Homo sapiens: one gene and its partners. The protein of the gene in region 4 interacts with the protein of the main gene of each other region in a pairwise test. Each region holds a gene or a part of one and is shown on either strand. Other genes may lie near its edges.

What was found.
Region 1: the proteins of ZNF775 (region 4) and MAPK6 interact in a two-hybrid assay, tested with the Homo sapiens proteins (one large-scale study listed by BioGRID and IntAct).
Region 2: the proteins of ZNF775 (region 4) and RPS6KA5 interact in a two-hybrid assay, tested with the Homo sapiens proteins (one large-scale study listed by BioGRID and IntAct).
Region 3: the proteins of ZNF775 (region 4) and FES interact in a two-hybrid assay, tested with the Homo sapiens proteins (one large-scale study listed by BioGRID and IntAct).

What each region holds. Positions count from the first base shown.
Region 1 is NC_000015.10:52,063,691-52,069,129, forward strand, and holds the end of MAPK6 (mitogen-activated protein kinase 6), read left to right. Parts: intron 1-211; coding exon 212-1,310; 3' UTR 1,311-3,685; downstream 3,686-5,439. UniProt on the Homo sapiens protein: Atypical MAPK protein. Phosphorylates microtubule-associated protein 2 (MAP2) and MAPKAPK5.
Region 2 is NC_000014.9:90,895,761-90,901,042, reverse strand, and holds part of RPS6KA5 (ribosomal protein S6 kinase alpha-5), read left to right. Parts: intron 1-306; coding exon 307-432; intron 433-801; coding exon 802-935; intron 936-1,620; coding exon 1,621-1,714; intron 1,715-5,282. UniProt on the Homo sapiens protein: Serine/threonine-protein kinase that is required for the mitogen or stress-induced phosphorylation of the transcription factors CREB1 and ATF1 and for the regulation of the transcription factors RELA, STAT3 and ETV1/ER81, and that contributes to gene activation by histone phosphorylation and functions in the regulation of inflammatory genes.
Region 3 is NC_000015.10:90,887,504-90,892,785, forward strand, and holds part of FES (tyrosine-protein kinase Fes/Fps), read left to right. Parts: intron 1-1,802; coding exon 1,803-1,940; intron 1,941-2,013; coding exon 2,014-2,133; intron 2,134-2,336; coding exon 2,337-2,459; intron 2,460-2,588; coding exon 2,589-2,775; intron 2,776-2,862; coding exon of another isoform or gene 2,863-2,897; coding exon 2,898-2,981; intron 2,982-3,478; coding exon 3,479-3,688; intron 3,689-4,050; coding exon 4,051-4,173; intron 4,174-4,554; coding exon 4,555-4,608; intron 4,609-5,203; coding exon 5,204-5,282. UniProt on the Homo sapiens protein: Tyrosine-protein kinase that acts downstream of cell surface receptors and plays a role in the regulation of the actin cytoskeleton, microtubule assembly, cell attachment and cell spreading.
Region 4 is NC_000007.14:150,377,184-150,382,920, forward strand, and holds the start of ZNF775 (zinc finger protein 775), read left to right. Parts: upstream 1-2,146; 5' UTR 2,147-2,209; exon of another isoform or gene 2,210-5,640; intron 5,641-5,737. UniProt on the Homo sapiens protein: May be involved in transcriptional regulation.

The DNA of each region.
Region 1 (5,439 bases), on a different chromosome or scaffold from region 4:
ATGAAGTTACATACTGCATTGGCAATTACCAAATATATTAACAGAGCTTTCCTATCAAGACTAAGTTCTGGTAGGGCAAGGCAGGCATATTTACTCTCCTATAATTATCCCCTCATAGACCTAGCACAGTGCTGTCACATAGAAGGTACTCGGTGAATTTGAAAATGAAATCATATACGTAGAATAACGCTAGTGTATTGATTTTTTTCAGGTATCATGATTGTCAGTTTTCAGAGCATGATTGGCCTGTACATAACAACTTTGATATTGATGAAGTTCAGCTTGATCCAAGAGCTCTGTCCGATGTCACTGATGAAGAAGAAGTACAAGTTGATCCCCGAAAATATTTGGATGGAGATCGGGAAAAGTATCTGGAGGATCCTGCTTTTGATACCAATTACTCTACTGAGCCTTGTTGGCAATACTCAGATCATCATGAAAACAAATATTGTGATCTGGAGTGTAGCCATACTTGTAACTACAAAACGAGGTCATCATCATATTTAGATAACTTAGTTTGGAGAGAGAGTGAAGTTAACCATTACTATGAACCCAAGCTTATTATAGATCTTTCCAATTGGAAAGAACAAAGCAAAGAAAAATCTGATAAGAAAGGCAAATCAAAATGTGAAAGGAATGGATTGGTTAAAGCCCAGATAGCGCTAGAGGAAGCATCACAGCAACTGGCTGGAAAAGAAAGGGAAAAGAATCAGGGATTTGATTTTGATTCCTTTATTGCAGGAACTATTCAGCTTAGTTCCCAGCATGAGCCTACTGATGTTGTTGATAAATTAAATGACTTGAATAGCTCAGTGTCCCAACTAGAATTGAAAAGTTTGATATCAAAGTCAGTAAGCCAAGAAAAACAGGAAAAAGGAATGGCAAATCTGGCTCAATTAGAAGCCTTGTACCAGTCTTCTTGGGACAGCCAGTTTGTGAGTGGTGGGGAGGACTGTTTTTTCATAAATCAGTTTTGTGAGGTAAGGAAGGATGAACAAGTTGAGAAGGAAAACACTTACACTAGTTACTTGGACAAGTTCTTTAGCAGGAAAGAAGATACTGAAATGCTAGAAACTGAGCCAGTAGAGGATGGGAAGCTTGGGGAGAGAGGACATGAGGAAGGATTTCTGAACAACAGTGGGGAGTTCCTCTTTAACAAGCAGCTCGAGTCCATAGGCATCCCACAGTTTCACAGTCCAGTTGGGTCACCACTTAAGTCAATACAGGCCACATTAACACCTTCTGCTATGAAATCTTCCCCTCAAATTCCTCATCAAACATACAGCAGCATTCTGAAACATCTGAACTAAAACACTCAGCAGACATTTATCTTTGTATTCTTCATGAAATGTGTTTTGTCTTTTTTTATTACTAGTGTTTAAGTCATTTTTTACTTGAATCAGATGGTGTCATTTAGTAAGGATTTTATGAGTTCTTGTTTTTTAAAATCCAGACTTTCTTTTTCTACATGTGAGATAGTTTTCATTTTAACTGGCATGTCATTTGCACACAAAAATAAAGACTAGAGCAAAATAATGCAACGCAGGAGGAGAAAAGAAATGCACTAAGACAAGAACATTCTCTCATAGAACATTGATCTGTTTTACAGGAAACAAACCTTGCCTTGAAATTTACACAGTGAGACTGTACATAATTGCATGAAAATAGCTATTTTTTTCCTAAGACATTTTTCATTCATGAATATTTTCAAGTTTTTCATACTGTACACATTTCTTAAAACACATGATACCAGCAGCAACTGAAAATGAATGCCGAATTTGGTACACATGTGTTATCTACCTCAAGGTAACAAGAGTATGTGGCAAAACATATACCACCCATAGTGCTTCACAAAATGCACTTCTATTTAGCCAGCGTTTATTGTAGTAAACTATTCTTAATAAAACTCACTCACTGTTTATAAATGTTCTGGTATGCATTCTTTATAGTGAAGTGTTAATACATCACATCTTATTTATTTTAGCAAATCAGTATATTTTCTGTATTTAATTATAAAAAATTAACTTAGTTTTTAAAATTTATTTGCAAATATACTTTACTTTTTCCATTTGGCACTATGGTTTGTTGCCTACCTAGCTGCATCTATAATGTCAGCTTATCCTAAGGCTGTCCACGTACTTAATTTACTTAAGTGTTCATTTTAAGTAACGTGCTCACTGTGTATAGGAATTTGTATTTTGGAGGTGCTTGATCTATCTACAAAGAAAAATTAATTAGGAATTACTTTATTATAAAATGCTCCTAGAAGTCTTAATTGTGTTTATTTTTTAAAAAAACAAATGTTAGACTTGTGTGCATGGAAGTAATTAAGGTACATCATTATTGTAGTTTGAAAGTTGTACATGATAAGACATTTTGTTTTTACTGTATGTTTTTACTGAATGATCTATTCCCCATCCCAAGGCAAGCATGAATAAAATTAGGTTAAACGTAGCATGTGGCATCGCAGTCTCTTAGAATTTGTTTCATCTATTTTATTTTATTGAATACTGTCTGTATCTTTGGTTATCCTGTTTGAAGAAAAAGGACAAATAAAACATGGCCAGCAAATACAGCTCCTGTTTCACTCTTGGGTTAATGAAAATTTTCTGCTAGAATGAAAATTACTACCAGAATCACTTTGAATTATGGCCATAAATTGCTAGTCTGAAAGGCTGAGAAGGTTCAAGTCTTTTGACTTAAACCATCACATATTAGAATGGAATAAAGCTTTATAATATTTCAAAACTGTTAGGTAAAATGTGTAGTTGAAACTTTGAACTGTGCAGTCAGAAAACTTGAGATTTGCTCTGTAATACATCTTTGCGTAAGAACTTACCCTTTTACCTATCCAGCTACAAAACCATCCTCTTCACCTCACTTTTCTTTCATCCTTGTTTTGTACAACACCAATTCTATTAATATCTGCCCACCTACCTTCTCAACAACTCCATCCTCTTCACCTCACTTTTCTTTCATCCTTGTTTTGTACAACACCAATTCTATTAATATCTGCCCACCTACCTTCTCAACAACTGACTTCATCTGGATTCACAAAGCCATATATATACACGTGTGTGTGTGTGTGTGTGTGTGTGTGTGTATATATATTCATTTATTTATTTTCTGGTTGAATACTGTCACGTTATTAATTTAAACATACTCAAATTACCTTAAGAGGACAAGCTCTGAAGTGCAGTCATGAGAATTGATTTGTGGGGAAAAAAAAAATGGGACACTTTTAGTTGGAGCTGGGTGGGGTGACAAGTGCAGAGGCTTTGAGTGTCATGAGAGCATCAGACAGGATGTAAAGGAAGCAACGGGCAGCAGACATTGGTCCCTGATCCTCCATTATAACCAATTTTTTGCAAACGTATGTTGATTTTGAGAATAATTAGCTTTGACTCTAAAATGCTGTCTTCCCTGAAGGAGACCTAGGATTTTTCTTACTGGGAAACTTGGCTCCTGGACTTAATCCACATTCGTTAAACTGTCACCTTGGCAGTTTAGTGGCCATCTACACAATGATCTGACTTGTTGGCATTAAAAAGTCCAAACATAGTCATCAAAGGAAGAAGAAAGTAAAACTGAAACCCCTTATATAAAATATGCTTGCTTTAGGGTGACCCAGGCTGAGTACTAAGTTGTAAAGTCAATTTCCAATAAAAATTTTATGTGCCAATTACTTTGTCTCCACTTGCAATCAAAGTATCTTTATAGGGTAATGAAGATGAAATACTCCAAGAGGCAAAGTCTTTCTTTCTCTGCCACCCAGGCTGAAGTGCAGTGGTGTGATCACAGCTCACTGCAACCTTGAACCTAGGCTCAAGTGATCCTCCCACCTCAACCTCTTGAGTACCTAGGAGTAGCTGGCACCTTTGTTAAAGATCATTTGACCATATAGATGAGAATTTATTTCTGGGTTCTCTACTCTGTCTCTTGTCACAGTTTTTGACTGTTTTTTTCCTTTGAGACAGGGTCTTACTCTCTGGCCCAGGCTGCAGTACAGTGACATGATCATAGCTCACTGCAACCTTGACTTCCCAGGCTCAGGCAATCCTGCCTCAGCCTCCTGAGTAGCTGGAGCCACAGGCATGAATCAACATGCCCAGCTAGTTTTTACATTTTTTATAGTACTTTTAAAATTTGTTTATAGAGACAGGGTCTCCCCCATGTCACCCAGGCTGGTCTTGAACCCCTGGGCTCAAGCAATCTTCCTCAGCCTCCCAATGTGCTGGAATTACAGGTGTGAGCCATTGTGCCTGGCGGTAAAGCATTTTTTTCTGACATGAGTATGGCCACCCCTGCTCTATTTTATCATTTGCCTGATAGCTTTAGTTTTAATTGCTACACCACAACGTATTTCTTAAATGACATCTTCCAAAATTTTGCTTCTACCAACATCTTTGCAGTGAGAATTCTTGTGAACATGTGTAAGAGTGTCTTTAGGGCAGATACATAGGAGTAGAGTTGCTACATATCTTCAAGTCTATGAAGATGCCATGTCCCTGTCCAAAAGTGATTGTACTGACTCACATTCCTGCCAGCAATGCACAAGAGTTCTTATTCATCCACATGCCTCCAAGCAAGAAACCAAGTTTCTTCCATTGAATTAATCCTACCAGCTTTGCAATGTTCAGTTTACAGTAGGAATCAGGATTTCTAATTCCAAACAACTGCATGGCTGGAAATCATGACTACACCTTAGGGATCCTTAAGTAGCCACTTCAATGTGAGATTGCCTTGTTTCTCATTTCCTATTGCTCCAGCCACTGCAGCTTGGGAACAGAGGCTTTAAATCTTAAAGGCTGAGCCAATTATGTCATTACACTGGGGTCCATACCTAAGGAGAAGTAGATCATGAATCAAATCGGGTTTTCAAATAAAATCCAAGCAAACATCACCTTTGCTTCTCAGTTAAGACACCTGCATAGTATTGGTTATGAAATTATTTGCAAGCACTGTTTTCCATTTGATACTTTGGTGTGTTTTATATAGAGCACATTTAGTTAGTGATCTAGTCAGCAAGTGGACCGTTGTCTGAACCGCTGACCTGCTCCCAGCCTTTTCAGTACCTGTTTACTATTGAATTAAAAATCAATAGAAGCTCTACCCTAAGTAGGTTCATCATGTATGGCATATTAATCAATTGCAGTTTTACCTGATGCCTCTCCATGTGAGCATTGTTTATCATTCAGATCCTAGTACCTTCTGAGTAGAGAAGAAAGAAGATTGAACCGGAAATCAGGAGATCTGAGTTCTGGACCCAGTTTTACCACTGACTCTCTGTCATTTGGGTGTCACGATCTTGGTGAGCCTAAGTTCCTTATTCAACTAGAAATGCGTATTACTCGATACTGACCTGGAACAACTTCTGAACCAGACACTGTCTTACTCAATTCTAACCCATTATAATAGCACAGCGATTAGCTCTTGCCA
Region 2 (5,282 bases), on a different chromosome or scaffold from region 4:
CAGCAAACCAGGAGAATTTCATCTATGAGTCTGATTTTGGGGGTGGAATAGGGAAGAAGTCTTTTTCTACCTTTATTTTTGAATTGGTTTAGTTCTACCAGAAGATGGCATTATATCCTTCTGAACAGCATTTTTCAAATGATTTGAAATAACCTTGCATTTTAGATTGCAAATAAAATAAAATTAGACTCATCTCAACAAATATTTGAGTGTTTTTCTAAGGAAAAAAAGTCATTACAATCTAATCTGTGTTAAACTGGAAAACTGCAAGTTGTTTTTCTTTATCTTTCTTTGTCTTGTTTTTAGGGCTATTCCTTTGTTGCTCCTTCCATCCTATTCAAGCGTAATGCAGCTGTCATAGACCCTCTTCAGTTTCACATGGGAGTTGAACGTCCTGGAGTGACAAATGTTGCCAGGAGTGCAATGATGAAGGTATATAGATGTGGTAACTTATATGACATATTTGTAGGTTTTGTGAGTGTTTAAATACCAACTCTAATTAATGTTCTTAAGTCTAGTAATTCAACTAAAGTGCAATTTTAAAAGTGGGATATAGCAATATTTTCCCTAGAGAATTAACGTCAAGTTGAATGAACTTCTTTTTACAATTATAGAGAATTATGTATCTTAAATAATTATTTAGATGAAAATAGAAGTTACCTATAAAGATGAATTTTAGATTATAAATGTATTCTATTCCTGTTTATTAATATTAATAATTTTATTTTACTCTACAATTTTATTGATCCTTTGTGTATTACTGACATTTTCTGAAGTTAAATGATGTTGATTTCTTGACAGGACTCTCCATTCTATCAACACTATGACCTAGATTTGAAGGACAAACCCCTGGGAGAAGGTAGTTTTTCAATTTGTCGAAAGTGTGTGCATAAAAAAAGTAACCAAGCTTTTGCAGTCAAAATAATCAGCAAAAGGTATGACCATTTTTAATATAATATTCTTTCTTAGGTATTCATGAATTCTGTAAATTAAAAGATATTTATTTTAATTGAAACCAGTATTATATTGTAAGACTTTCTTACCCAAAGGTTTAACCACTTGGCTCATCAGTTGGTCCATTATACTTTTAGCTCTAATTGATATTTTCTGATAAAGTAATCCATTTTAGACATAAATCATAGTCTTATTTGCTTTTGAGTTTATCTAGAGAAAACGTCTTTGTGACAGTGACATATTTAATCAGGCTCACATAGTGATTTTGGCAGCCATTGCCATTTCTACTAGTTGTGTATTTGAAATATTTTTCTCTAAAATTATTTAGCAAGCTACTGATAGCTTTGAGAGCCATCTAGTTGTTTTGGTAACTGATGATTATTATTAAGATTGCATATTCTTATTACTCTAAATTGTCAGGAAAGTAGAGCATTCATTTCCTCATATGATTTGTACTTTTCTGACTCAGAAATAATAATTTTCTCCAGAATATTACTTTTTCTAGTGTGTGGTATAATTCATTACTTTCATGGAAACCTCATTACAGTATACTGTAACATGTATATTCTGAATGCACTGTAAATAAGACAAAATTAGTCTTGGGGCAGTACTGATATAAAAACTTTCTTGAAGAGACATGTGGATGCTAAGTGTCTCATCTTGCAGGATGGAAGCCAATACTCAAAAGGAAATAACAGCTCTGAAACTCTGTGAAGGACACCCCAATATTGTGAAGTTGCATGAAGTTTTTCATGATCAGGTATCCTACTTTTTTTTTTTTTTTTTCCCATGTGTACTAATTCACTTACAGGGTTGTACTTTTCACGCGTTTTGTTGGTGCTGCTGGGTCAGAGTCAGGGATATAGAACATCACCCAGCCACCAGAAAGGGCAGTGAAACCACCCTCTCAAACCCCTCCCCAACCACACACTGTTTCCCAACCCCAAATCAGGTTATCCCTTCACCTCTCATGCTTTTCTCACTCAGCAGTTAACCACCTATGACAGGAAGACGGAGGGCCAGGAGCTCAGTGGTGCAGTCACTGGCTACAATGTGCTTGTTGCCAGTGCCGCTTCTACCCACCATCACTTAATCCTGGAGTACCTCTCAGGACTCAGGAATTTTGAGCCTCCAACTTCCCTTTCACTTCTAGAGTAAAACTGAGAGAGCCTGGAGCCTAATTAATGCAAGCTAAAGGACAAATAGGAAGCAGAAAGCAAAGATACTCCTTTTATCTTCTAGCTCCAGGTGGTAAATTCTGCTCAGAACCCTGGCCAGATCATGCTGCCCCCTCTTCTGCTCTCAGTCCTGCTTTGCAGCAGGAACTATGGGAGGATGCCAGTGTGTCCAGTTCGTGTCTGTTCACCTCACACATGACAGAAATTGCTCCATTACACTTCTCTGCCCCTGAGACCAGGTGGGGTGATGCAGTCCTACTTAAGACAACTTGGAGGCACAAGAGCACAAACCAATCCTGAATGTGCTTTGCCCTAATTTTACCAATAAAGAAACTGAGATTTTGAATGTTCATAAAACTTGTCTAAGGTCACATAGCATGTCAATGCGAATCTAATAAGGAGAACCTGTACTCCAGTTCTGGGCTCTCTTTGTTGTGCTGTTGTAATATCTGTGACCTAGGATCGATGGGGCCCAGTTCTCTACCACATTGAAATATCCTCGAGTGCTATTGCCAGGAATGATACATCATGGTGAGACCAGGCAGCAGCAGCAGTAGCACCATAACCATAATAGCTGCTGCCATTTATTATCACATATCTTGTGTGGTCTAGGTTCTGTACCAGGCACTCTGCATGTATTGTCTTATTCAGTCCTTACCATAGGTCCATGAGGTGAGAAAATGGACACTCATAGAAGTTAAGTAACAGGTCTTACAGTTGGTAAGTGTGGTAAGGCTGGGATCTGAATCCACACAGTCCAACTTCAGAGCCCAACAAGCTTTTATTTACTTTAAACTACTGCCTTAGGGAAGGCAGAATCACATCTGGCAGTAAGCATCCCAAAATGGCATCATCCTCTACTCACTCTTTGGTTCTTGTAGTCAGAAAAGAAATGCCACTGAAGCAAGGACTCAGGGGGAACCGCTCTCCCTGATCCTCTACCTCCTCTTGCCTCATCAAGCCACTCGACACAAGAGGAGGTAATGAGTCCCCTGGCCACGAAGGTGCTTAAGAAGAGGCTCACTAGACAGTCTCCTGTTGAAGATGATATAGAGGAAATTCACATCATTCAAGGAATCAACGGGTGATCTTAGATGCTCTCCTCTGGGTTTGCAGCTGTGCCCATAACTACATCCCAGACAAGATACTTGATCTCTGACCTTCAGACTAATGTCAGGTCCCATGAACAACATTTCTAATTTTTTATTTGTGTCACAAATTAAGTAGATGTTTTGCTATTTATATATTCAGGAGTTACTAAAATATAAATTGTCACATGATATAATCCTATACAAACTAGTATAAATACATTATCAATCTAATATGCAGTTGTAATGTATCTTGGGTTTTCTCATAATGGTGGCACAGTTGCCTAGATCATCCCTGTATCCAGTCTTTTCTTCAACTAATGGGTGAAATTGGTTATGGTGGGTCTTCAGCCTTTGTGCAATAGCATAGTTCATTTTGTGTGCCATGATATGCGTTTCACGTACTCCATGAGTTTGCTATTGCTGCTGCAACAAATCACCACAAACTTAAAACAATACAAATTTATTATCCTGCAGTCTGGAGGTCAGAAGTCCAAAATCAGGCCCATTGGCTTAAAGTCAAGCTGTCACCAGAGCTGGTTCCCTCTTGAGCAGAACCAGGTGCACAGCGGGAGGTGAGTGGCAGGTGAGCCAGCATTACTGCCTGAACTCCACCTCTTGGCAGATCAGCGACAGCCTTAGATTCTCACTGGAGTACAAACTCTATTGTGAACTGCGCATGGCGAGGGATCAAAGTTGCAGCACTCCTTATAAGAATCTAATGCCTGTCCCACCCCACTACTGCCTCCCCTCGTCCATGGAAAAATTGCCTTCCGTGAAACCATTTCCTGGTGCCAAAAAAGTTGCGGACCTGGCTCATGCCTGTAATTCCAGCACTTTGGGAAGGTGAGGCAGGTGGATCACTTGAGGTCAGGAGTTTGAGACCAGTCTGGCCAACATGGTGAGACCCTATCTCTACCAAAAAATACAAAAAATTAGTCAGGCGTGGTGTTGTGCGCCTGTAGTCCTAGCTACTCTGGAGGCTGAGGTGGGATAATCCGTTGAACTTGGGAGGCGGAGGTTGCAGTGAGCCAAGACTGCACCACTGCACTCCAGCCTGGGTGATAGAGTGAGACCCTGTCTCAAAAAAATAAGAAAACAAAAAAGAAAAAAAATGTTGAGGATCACTGCTCTGGAGGCTCTAAGGGACAACCCATTTACTTTCCTTTTGTAGCTTCTAGACACCCCCCAACATTTCCTTGGCTGTGAGCCTTCCATGCATCACTCTAAGATCTTGCCTCCAGGGTCTCATCTCATACTGCTAACTCTGATGAATAATTCAGGATAATCTCACATCTCAAGCTCCTTAATTTACTAATCACATCTCAAAAGGCCCTTTTGCCATCCTTCTAAGGTAACAACCACAGGTTCTGGGCATTAGGACATGAACAACTTTGGAGGGCCATCATTCAAGCTCTACCACGCATACATTTTCTCATTGCTATCTGCATTTTATTGATAAGGATCCTAGAATTAATAAGATAAAGTAGCATCCCAAGATCATGAATAAATAACAGAACTGACCTTCAAATCCAGGTTGAACTCTAAATCTGTTCGTACACCACTGCAAGTATTGCCTTACATCTTTTTTAAAGCTCACCAGCCTACAGTTGTAGCAGACCTGCAAGCTCAACTTTATCTGATGTAGAAACTCAAGTTAGCTTGATGTCTAGTAGGCTGGGAGCAATTTTCTTGTTAGAAGGGTTGTTCACTCTGCAATTTGTCTAATGCTTTCAGGATAATGTACTTATAATTGTCTTTTTTATGAAGCAGTTTATTCTGAGTTTTGCTAATACAGAAAGAAACATTTTGTTTGTGAAGTGATGTTGGCCTTATAATGCATAGCACCTGAATTCAGTATATTGCCATGATATCTTTTTCTAAACCATTTGTGTTCATTTGAGAGCTGATTAAGTCCTTTGCTTTTTTTCTTTTTTGAGACAGGGTCTCTGTCACCCAGGCTGGAGTGCAGTGGCACAGTGACGGCTCCCTGCAGCCTTGACCTCCCGAGCTCAAGTGATTCTCCCACCTCAGCCTCCTGAGTAGCTGGGACTGTAGGCGT
Region 3 (5,282 bases), on a different chromosome or scaffold from region 4:
GGGCCAAGGATTGGAAACAGGCAACTTACCTCTGAATTACACTATTCCAGGGTCTCATTATTCCAGGGTTTTATTACATTCATTGAGCACTGTTCTGGGCTCTGGATTATACCAGAGAACGATGGTAGACAAAAACATCTGTCCTCAGGGATCTTTCGTGTTAGTGGAGTGAGGATGTGAGGAGCACTAAGAGCCATGGAGAAAAATAAAGCAAGAGAAGTGGATCGGGACCTGGGAGCACGGAGGCAAGGGAGGAGGTGACAGTTGTCCATAGAGTGATCTGGGAAAGCCTCTTGAGAGGTGACATTCAAAGAGGCCCCTGAGAGGGGTACGGGAGTGAATCATGGGGCTATTTGGAGAAAGACCATTCCAGAAAGGAGGACAGCAATTACACAGGCCTTGAGGTAGGAGAGTACCAGGGACTAATAGCCAGGAACCAGTGGTGCCTCTGAGAGTGAGGGAGGGGGAGAGTCATACACGAGGCTGGAGGAGGCAGGCGTCAAGGGCTACTGGGTGATAGAGGGTCTAGCAGGGCCATGGTGAGGACTTTGGCTCTGGGTGAACAAGAATGGCATGATCTGACCTCTGTTTTTTTGTTTCATTTTGTTTTAACTTTTTTTGAGTCAGAGTCTCGCTCTGCCGCCCAGGCTAGAGTGCAGTGGCATGATCTCGGCTTACTGCAACCTCCGCCTCCCAGGTTCAAGTGATTCCCCTGCCTCAGCCTCCCGAGTAGCTGGAACTACGGGCATGCGCCACCACACCCAGCTAATTTTTGTATTTTTAGTAGAGATGGGGTTTCACCATGTTGCCCAGGCTAGTCTCTAATTCCTGGGCTCAAAGCGATTTGCCTGCCTCTGCCTCCCAAAGTGCCGGGATTACAGGCATGAGCCACCATGCCCAGCCCTGACCTCTGTTTTAATAAGGCCACTCTGGCTGCTGTGCTGCAAATAGACTTCAGGGAGCAAGGACAGAAGCTGGGAGGCCAGAGAGCAGGCTCTTGCCATAATCCAGATCCAAGCTTTTGGCCACTAGGACGGGGAGGTAGCAATGGAGGTGAGGCGCGGTCAGGTCCTGGAAGGTGAAGCCAGTGGGATTTCCCTATGGATTGGAAGTGGGGCGTGAAATAGAGGAGTCAGGGGTCACTCTGGGGATTTGGCCTGGAGCAGCTGGAAGATGGAGTGGCTGTTAACTTATGTAGGGAAGGCTGTGGGAAGAAGAGGTTTAGGAGACAAGGATAGCAGTTCATTTATTTATTTATTTATTTATTTATTTATTTATTTATTTATTTATTTAGAGATGTAGTCTCATTCTTTCGCCAGGCTGGAGTGCAGTGGCGCGATCTTGGCTCACTGCAACCTCCACCTCCCAGGCTCAAGCGATTCTCTTGCCTCAGCCTCCCGAGTAGCCAAGTAGCTGGGACTACAGGCATGTGCCACCATGCCTGGCTAATTTTTGTATTTGCTTTTTCAGTAGAGATGGGGTTTCACCACGTTAGCCAGGCTGGTCTCGAACTGACCTCAGGCAATCCACCCGCCTCGACCTCCCAGTGTTGGTATTATAGGCGTGAGCCACTGTGCCTGGCCCACTGGATCCTTATTACAACTGCCAGTGTCCCTCTTATATATATCAGGAAATAGAAGATTAGGGAGAGGTTAAATAATTTGCCTAGAGTGGCATGGCTAGCTCGAAGTGAGGCAGGGGTCAACCCCAGCCCTGACTCCAAACCCAGGGTCCTAGGCCTGAACTGCCCAGCCTTGCCCAGCCTGAGGCTCCCCTGACTGGGGATCCCGTCTCGGGGGCAGGAAGGAGATCCTGCAGGAATACCTGGAGATTAGCAGCCTGGTGCAGGATGAGGTGGTGGCCATTCACCGGGAGATGGCTGCAGCTGCTGCCCGCATCCAGCCTGAGGCTGAGTACCAAGGCTTCCTGCGACAGTATGGGTAAGCCCCGTCCTTGCTCCTGCTGGGCCCAGGGCTGCTGGCCTGTCCACTGACGGGGCGCTGTCCCCCACAGGTCCGCACCTGACGTCCCACCCTGTGTCACGTTCGATGAGTCACTGCTTGAGGAGGGTGAACCGCTGGAGCCTGGGGAGCTCCAGCTGAACGAGCTGACTGTGGAGAGCGTGCAGCACACGTGGGTGGTGGCTTTGCACCTGGGCTGCGGCGGGGCTCCCAGCAGACCACGAGTGTTTATGTAGGCAGGGCTAGGTCGTGGAGACTGTCCACACAGAGCTGTCACCAGGTGGCCGGGCTTGCTTGGCTCTACAGGGATGCACTGGACCTGGGTTGAGGGGGCAGGAGGGCTCGGTTCTAATGCTGCCCTTCTCTTGGGTGCAGGCTGACCTCAGTGACAGATGAGCTGGCTGTGGCCACCGAGATGGTGTTCAGGCGGCAGGAGATGGTTACGCAGCTGCAACAGGAGCTCCGGAATGAAGAGGAGAACACCCACCCCCGGGAGCGGTGAGTGGGCCCCTGCCTGCAGCAGCCTCCTGGGCCTCCCTCCCTCCTACCTACCCTAACTGCTGCTGGCTACCCGCCGCAGACCGAGCCCTTATTCTCATCCACCCTCCCACCCGCCCCTGCCTGCAGGGTGCAGCTGCTGGGCAAGAGGCAAGTGCTGCAAGAAGCACTGCAGGGGCTGCAGGTAGCGCTGTGCAGCCAGGCCAAGCTGCAGGCCCAGCAGGAGTTGCTGCAGACCAAGCTGGAGCACCTGGGCCCCGGCGAGCCCCCGCCTGTGCTGCTCCTGCAGGATGACCGCCACTCCACGTCGTCCTCGGTGAGCTGCCCCATCCGCGGCCGCTGCCCGCCACCGGCCTGCCCACCTGGGGCTGCGCTCCTCATTTTCGCCCTCCCCCTCCCTAAGCCTGGCCACCCGCTGACGTCTGTCCCTGGCCTCAGGAGCAGGAGCGAGAGGGGGGAAGGACACCCACGCTGGAGATCCTTAAGAGCCACATCTCAGGAATCTTCCGCCCCAAGTTCTCGGTGAGTGGCGCCCAGCCTGGGCCCCCCTACTGTTGTGTTTCGAGTTTAATCACTGGGATGTCCTAGAGAGGAGGCTCTGCCCAGGCTGCTTGTATTGGGAAGTTCCTCTCTTCCCTGGGATTCCAGGCTGCAGATGTCCCCAGACCCTGCCCCTGTGACCCCTCCCTTTCCATCGCCCCAGTGTGCTAAAGGGACCAGCAACCTCGACTATTCCATGGCTCTCCCTGCTTCAGGAGCGGGTTGGGGGCCTGTGGCCTGGAGGAGGAGGCACCAGCTTGGTTTGGGGTCTTCCTGCCTGGGCTTCCCTTCCCAGCTCTGCCCAGCGTGAGCCTGGGCCAGTCCAGTGCCCACTCCAGGGGCCTGTGGATGGCTCTGCATGCCACTCCATGGTTGTAAGGGCTGAGGGCATATAGGGGGGAGAGAGAGACCCCCGGCTGCCCCCACGGCCTCTTCAACAAGGTGGTTAAGTGACTCCTCCTCGATCCTCCCTTGCCCAGCTCCCTCCACCGCTGCAGCTCATTCCGGAGGTGCAGAAGCCCCTGCATGAGCAGCTGTGGTACCACGGGGCCATCCCGAGGGCAGAGGTGGCTGAGCTGCTGGTGCACTCTGGGGACTTCCTGGTGCGGGAGAGCCAGGGCAAGCAGGAGTACGTGCTGTCGGTGCTGTGGGATGGTCTGCCCCGGCACTTCATCATCCAGTCCTTGGATGTGAGTGGGGCTGGGACCCGAGCCTTCCAGGCCTCACTCTTCCCCTCCCTTCCCTTCCCCAAGGGAAATGGCCTTTCAGGGTAGGGGGTAGCTGCCAGGTCTTGGATGCCTCCCTAGCAGGGCTGGCTGGAAGGGGCCACAGAGACCACCCTGTCCCTGCAACAAAATAGAGGCTTAAGTGTGAGTCCTCCCCTGGTGGGGCAGCAGGATGTCATGTGCCATCAGATGGCATCTTTTCTGGAGGTCTCTCTGCCCCTGGTCCTGGGCAGGCCCTTTCTCCCCTGCTGCTCTCCCTTTCCCCCTCCCAGGGCTCACGCCCCCTCAGAATGGAGGCTGCTGACCCCGGGTCCCCTGCCCTGCAGAACCTGTACCGACTGGAAGGGGAAGGCTTTCCTAGCATTCCTTTGCTCATCGACCACCTACTGAGCACCCAGCAGCCCCTCACCAAGAAGAGTGGTGTTGTCCTGCACAGGGCTGTGCCCAAGGTGAGCCTGCACCCAGCCTGGCCCATGCCACCTGTGGCAGGGCTTGGGGAGTGTGGGTCAGGCCCACCCAGCGTCTGAGCAGAAAGGGCTTTCCAGGCCCTCCGTCTACATACAAGATGCAGAGTGAGTGACCCTCAGGGCCAGCCTTGCTCTAGGTTTGGAATGTCAGGGCCACTCCTATGCCATGGGCTGTACACACCAGGTTGGTGCTTACCTGGTCAGGGCACCTGCCTGGACCCCGTAGTCATCTCAGTGTGCTCCCCACGTGGTCCCACCCCTGGTCACATATGGAGGCGCCAAAAAATGGAGGACACAGCCCTTCTAAGGGCCCAGCACCCCTTTTCTTCAGACTTCTGATCCCCTGTCTCCTCTCTTCCCCAGGACAAGTGGGTGCTGAACCATGAGGACCTGGTGTTGGGTGAGCAGATTGGACGGGTGAGTGCGCCTCTGCTGGCCTCCTTGTCGCTGGCGACTTCTCCTGAGTCGCGCCTGGGCCCCCTGCCCTACCACCCAGAGACCTCCCTGCCCCATCTGATTCCCCACTTGTACCCCGACTCCCTGCCCAGCCCCCACCACACACCATCCTCCAGGAAACGGGACAGTACCTACCCTGAAAACTCCCAGCAGACAGCTCTGCCAGCACCCTGACCTCATCACCCCCACCCAGGCCGCCCCCATCGAGCTCTTGTGTGCACGCAGGGAGACACCCTGTTACTGTAAGCCATAAGATACCTGTTTAGGGAAGAAGTCACTGTCCTAAAAATCAGAATGCTTTTCAAACCCAAGGGAGAGTGATTTTTGGATTTCCATGTCACTTCTCTCAGGAAGGGTGGCACATCGGAGGCAACTTTCCCTGCCTGCCCCATGTGCTCTCTAGGTTCCCCAGCGAGGGTCAAACTCCCAGAGAGCCTGGGTGAGGGGTCCGAACACGGGGGCCCCTCACCCAGGGGTAGGAAGCAGAATGGGTAGGAAGCGGAGAAGAGAACTGCGGGACTGGGAAGGCCGTGGTAGGAGCCCAAGACCGTTTCAGGGGAACTTTGGCGAAGTGTTCAGCGGACGCCTGCGAGCCGACAACACCCTGGTGGCGGTGAAGTCTTGTCGAGAGACGC
Region 4 (5,737 bases):
CTGGTATTTTTTTTCTTAGTGGAAATAGGATCCCAGAGGTTCTCCATTCTTTCCACCTCTGAAATACCCTTGGTCATGGGATGCCAATCTGGAGGAAGTCTGCTCTGTAAGAAGGAAACAGGCCCAGAGAGTGGAAGTGACCCCCACCGGTGGGGGTCCTAATTTCTGAAAAACAACTCAAGGACATATGTCAAGATGTCATCTTCAGTTTCTATAAGGAAGCTAACGTTTTGTGACTCTTATTTGGGTACTATTGTTTAAACTATTACTACTTTCTTGCTTAGCAGGTCATTCATTCACTTCCCTAATTGCTGGTTGCAGGGCTAGCTAGGTGCCTGGAATTTCCCTTGAAGGGACTCAAATGTTTCTTTATTTTCGTGCATTGAATGGGGGGCTGGTGGCAGACCCCTAAGAGAGGTTCCTGCTCTGTCTCAACACTTGTAGCCAGTGGCAAATCTGGAACTAGAATACTGGTCTCAGCAACAGGAATGTATTCCACAAGCCTTCGTAGAACCTCTTCTAGGTACTCTTCTAGAAAATAAGCTAGGTGTGGTGGTGCATGCCAGTAGTCTCAGGTGTAGTTCAGGTGGGAGGATCCCTTGAGGCCAGGAGTTTGAGGCTGAAGTGCGTTATGATTGTGCCTGTGAATAGCCACTGTACTTTAACCTGGGAAACATAGCAAGACCCCGTCTTTAAAAAAATAAACAGGAGAATGAGACTCCAAAGTGTTGATAGCTAGTGATGTGTGGCCTCTTTATAGGGTGTGTATGATTTTGTATTTTACAAATCCTTCTATAGATAATATAACCAAATTAACGGTAAAAACTCAGTAAGGTATGCAGGCAACTAGAAAATTATTAACCCTATTTTATAGACGAATAAGTCAAAGTCCAGAAACAGAAAAGTATCTTTTATAAAAAGTACACATGAAGTTAGTGACAAAATCGAATCTCAGTCCCCAGTTCCTGCTGTGCTACTGAGGCTAAACCGCAGCCGGGCCTGTGGCAAATGTTTAATCAGCTGTTGACTGAAGAAAATAAGGTCCGCCTGCCCAACAGCAACCGTTTGTAGAGTCTCAGAGGCCCAGCTTCTGTCTGTATCTACCTCATGCCCCAGAGGCAGCTTCTAGCAGCTCCGGAGAGCATCCTGCCAGTGGGAGTTGACCCAGCTGCGCCCCCTTTGAGGGAGAAGTGTGAGGAATTTCCTTACAATGGGGTGGGGAGTTGCGAAGATACTCCTTCCTGAAGGTCTGGCAGTCTGGACCGGGGTGGCAACTGGGCGGAGATGATTCCGCTCACGGGAACCCTACCTAGTAACCCGACCTAGTAACGTAACCTCAGAGCCGTTCCTCAGCTAGAAAACAAAGGGATTAGGCCGGGCGCGGGTTTGTAATCCCAGCACTTTGGGAGGCCGAGGCCGCAGGGTCACTTAAGCTCAAGAGTTCGAGACCAGCCTGGGCAACATGGCGAGACCCCCATCTCTACAAAATATTTAAAAAGTTAGCAGGTTGGGAGGTTCGGTTGAGCCACGGGTTCGAGGTTGCACTGAGCCATGATCGCGCCACTGGGGTCTGAGCGAGACCACCTCCCTGAAACAGAAAACGAAGGGGTCGGGTATAATGATTTCTAAGGTCCCTCGTAGTGAACCCTAAAAGTTATCACACCCCACGGTGGGGCTATCGCGGCTTGAGGGCAGCCACAGCCTCAGCCGGGGTTTCTGTCCGGGCCCTGATGGGTCCCCAGCAGGGAGAAACAGCGTCCGGCGCGCTGTGGCGCTCGGCGAACGTGCGCTGAGTTCAGGCGTTACAACGGGGTCGCACGCGGAGTCCAGGCCTGGCAGGGGTGCCAGGACGCCGCCGGCCATCTGGGGCCCGACCTCCCAAGGTCTCCTCCCCGCGGCCGGCGGCTAGCGCGCTCACGGCGCCCGGGCCTTGCGCGCCCGCCGGGGGCGAGGTCAGCCCTCCCCCCTCGGCTATTGGCTCCAGAGAACAAAGGAGCCGCCCCGCGGGCTGCTCCGATAGGGCCGGGCGGGTCATCTGAGCGGCGCAGCCAATGGAGTGGCTGGGCGGCCCCGGGGATGGCCAGGCCCGCCAGCCAATCAGGCACCCGTGCCCGCCCCGCCTGCCCCGGGAATGGCCAGGGCCGGGAGCCCGGTGCCCAAGTCGCCCTCGGGGTGGCAGTTCCCGTTAACCTTAGCCACAAAGTCAAAGGTATTTATTTCCCCGTCGCCTCCCTCCGAGTCCCTCTGCATTTTGGGCGGGGAGGGGCGGTGCGAGGGATGGACCAGCGCCCGGCCCCGCTCCTCCCGTGCTGCCTCCGCCCGGCCCGGGCTGGGGCGGAGGGATGGGGCGGGGGCCTGGGGTGCCCCGAGCCCCGCGCGCCCCCCGAGCCCCGGGTCTCAAGCGTTCCCTCTGCCCCGACACAGCCGAGGGGAAAGGGGCGCGGCCGAGGGTGGGGAGGGCGCCAGGCCAGGGCAGCGAGGTTAGGAGGGAGGCTAGTGAGAATGGAGGGAGGACGCGGTGGCGAGTAGAGGGGTCGCCCGCGGGCGGTCTCTCCTGGGCTGTCCCGTTGTTCCGAGTTCCCCGTCCCTGTTCGCCTCCCTGATAGATCAGTTTCTGGGGGCAGGAACCCCAATGCTCGCTGCAGAGTGACAGACACATAGTAGGTGACCAATAAATGTGTGATTAAACGAGCGGGGATAAGGATTGGGGGTGGAGATAAGTGAGAGGGAAGCACCGCAGAAGTTGGAAGTGTGTGGTGTCGGGTGTGGCGGAGAACTCCTCTCTAGGAAGATGGGCACAGCAGCCGCGAACTCGGTGGGGCGGGGTGCGGGCATCCCCTCTGTGAAGAACGTTGAGGATATCTACATGTGGAAGGTGTGGAGATGGGTCCTCCTTCGGCCCTTTGAGCAAGATGATCTGAGCTGGGGCTGGGTGTGGTCAGAGCCCCAGGGGTTGGAGGCGGACGACAGCCCAAGGCTTCACAGCTAACTGTTCCCATGTTCATCTGTAAAATGAAGAGATTAGATGGCAGTTGTCTCCTTTCAGCTTGAAGGTTCATGCTTCCGTGCTTCAAATCTGTTTTGTACTGAAATTTCTTTTATTTAAGTGTTCCCTTATGACAGTTTTTATTAATGGATTACTGTGTGTGGAGCCTGTACTGGGTGCAGGGGAGAGAGAAGGACCCTGTGTTAAGATGCATGTAGTCTTGTGCAGACTAACAAATTGATGACAATGATGATTCCATGTAGATGGTCCTAGGTGCACAGGTTAAACAGAGAAGGGATTCCTGGCTGTGCCTGGTGTGTCCAAAAAGGCTTCCTGGTCAAAGCGATCCCTAATCTGGGCTGGGAAGGGGAGAACTGAGCAAGGGCCTTCCAAGGTTGGTCACAGGGTGCGAGGACACGGTGAGTTCAAGAGCCACGAGAGGATGGGGCGTGTCGGGGTGCAATGGGGAAAGATGAGCAGAGTTGAGTTCTCAGTTCCCTCTTATCCGAGGTGTGCGTGCCAGCAAGTCCATTTGGTGGGGGTCTGGGTTTCTGAAAAACAACTCAAGGACATATGCTAAGATGTTACCTTTAGTTTCTTTAGGCAACCACACGTTTCGTGTGGTCTGACTTCCTTGCTATTATTTTAGCTACGATTACCTTCTTATCAGGTTGCACATTTACTTCTCAGGACCAGCTAGGTGCCTGGAATTTCCCTGGAAAGAACTCAAGATTTTCCTTTATTTTCATGATTGGAGGGCACAGCAGGTGCCTGAAGGGGTCCCTGCTCCATCTCACTTTGCTTTCCCAAGGTCCTTTGAATGCAGCAAGGGATGCAAACGTGTTTATTAATTAAAATGTGACACCTCTTCAGAGATTGTTAGCAGCTGGGTTTATCCTCGGCCTTCAGCTCAGATGCAGGCCCTGACAGGTTCCTGAATATTAGAATTGGGGCCGAGGAATGTAAGTGCAGCTCTCGCCTCTGAAGGGAGGTGGGTGAGGAGGAGGGGGCCAGGGGTGTGGCGCAGGGGAGGTGTGGGTGGGACAGTTCCAGCAAGCGTGTTTACCTCTGGCCGGTGAAGGAAGTCTTGGAAGGAGGTACCTCAGGATCATGGCTGGGGTTGAATTGGGGACCTCTGGGAGGTGGGCAGGCATAGTGGATAAGGCAAGTGACCTGCTTGCATGCAGATCAGGTCTCCTGGGAATGTCGAGGGGAGCAAACTGAAGCCATGAAACCAGGCTGGCTGTTCATACCCTGAGGTACAGTTCTTATAACCCTGAGTGGGGAGCGGGTGATGGCAACAGCAACGACCTAAATCGAATTTGTCTTGCACCTTGGGAATGTCTCTCAGAGTCCTCTCACACTGTTTGCGTCCCGCCATCCCCACCCCCCACCGCCCCCGCCCCACTTGATATAACAATTCTGTACCACGAGCAAGCGTTATTTCCATTTTCAGGTGGGGAAACTGAGGCCCAGAGAAGGAAAGTGGTTTGCCTGGGATCATGTGGCTAACCAGAAGCAAACCCAATCTCAGTCCCTGTCTGGGGCCTCTCAGCGGCTTTTTCCACTATGGCCTGTTCTTTGGGTTGGACAGTGGCCCGCCCTTTCCCTTGGCTCCCCTCCTCTGTTCCCTCCCCAGATTGAGGACTGGGGTGTTTGGGAGACTGAGGTCTGAAGATGGTGGAGTAGGAAGAGGGGAAGGGTCAGGGCTGGGAGAGTGGTCACAGTGGGGGTGGCCTTGTGCTGAGTGGGATCCGGGAAGTTGGAGAGGAGCAGGGTGGGTCATGGGGGGTGGGACAGGGGAGTTGTGGGAGGCTTCAGGGTGCCTGATGCTGGGTGTGGGGATGGAGGCCTCCAGGTGGGGGAGGGGATGCCCACCTGGTTTGGGCTGGGACCTCTGGGAGGGGCATGCAGAACCACCCTGGTAAGTGGAGGGCTCTGCAGACAGTGCCACAACCAGAGCCGTGGCAAACCCTCTTCCTCCTGCATGGTGGAGCGTGGAGGCTCCTGTGTGGCGCTGGGGGCCTCTGAGATTCCCAACTGGCTGGAAGGAGTGATGGCTTAGGAGGAGTGAGTGGCAGCGGGGACGCTGGCAGAGAGGCTTGTACAGATACTGCCCGATGCATCCGGCTCAGGCTTGCCGCCCTGTGGTGCTCCTCCCAAACTCAGGGAGCAGGTATTTCCGTTCACCTGCGCCTTCAAGAACCTGAGCTCAAAGCGCTGCAATGACTGGCCAGGGACTAGCAGCGGCTCAGTGGTGGGTGGGCTGGGACTTGGGGTTCTTGATTAAGACATGGGGTCCTGAGGGGAGGGACCAGGAAGGGTGGCCTTGAGAAGGACATCCCTGCCAGCCTCAGGCAGTGGGCTTCTAGGGGGAGACTAGGGCTGAGGAGCCAGCCAGGTGGCGGCTGAGGGTCACCCAAAGATGGCTGAAGGGGAGAGGGCCCGCTGCATCCCCTTGGGCCAGAGCCCACAGGCCAGGCCCTGAGGATCTTAGGCTGCACCAGGCTTGCCGGACACAGGCTCATTGTCTCTAGGGCTTTCTGTCTTGCTGTAACGTCTCTCCAGCCAGCTGCAGCTCCTGCTGACTTATCCCACCCCAGCGCAGGTCATCCAACGGTGACTTATGGCCCCGGCCTCCTGGCTCGATGAGGGTATGTTGCTTCTGTTTCTACCTCTCTGAGTTCTTTTCCTCGGAGCAAGTGACCCTGATGGGATGGCCATGGGTGTACAAGGATACTTGTGTCATGG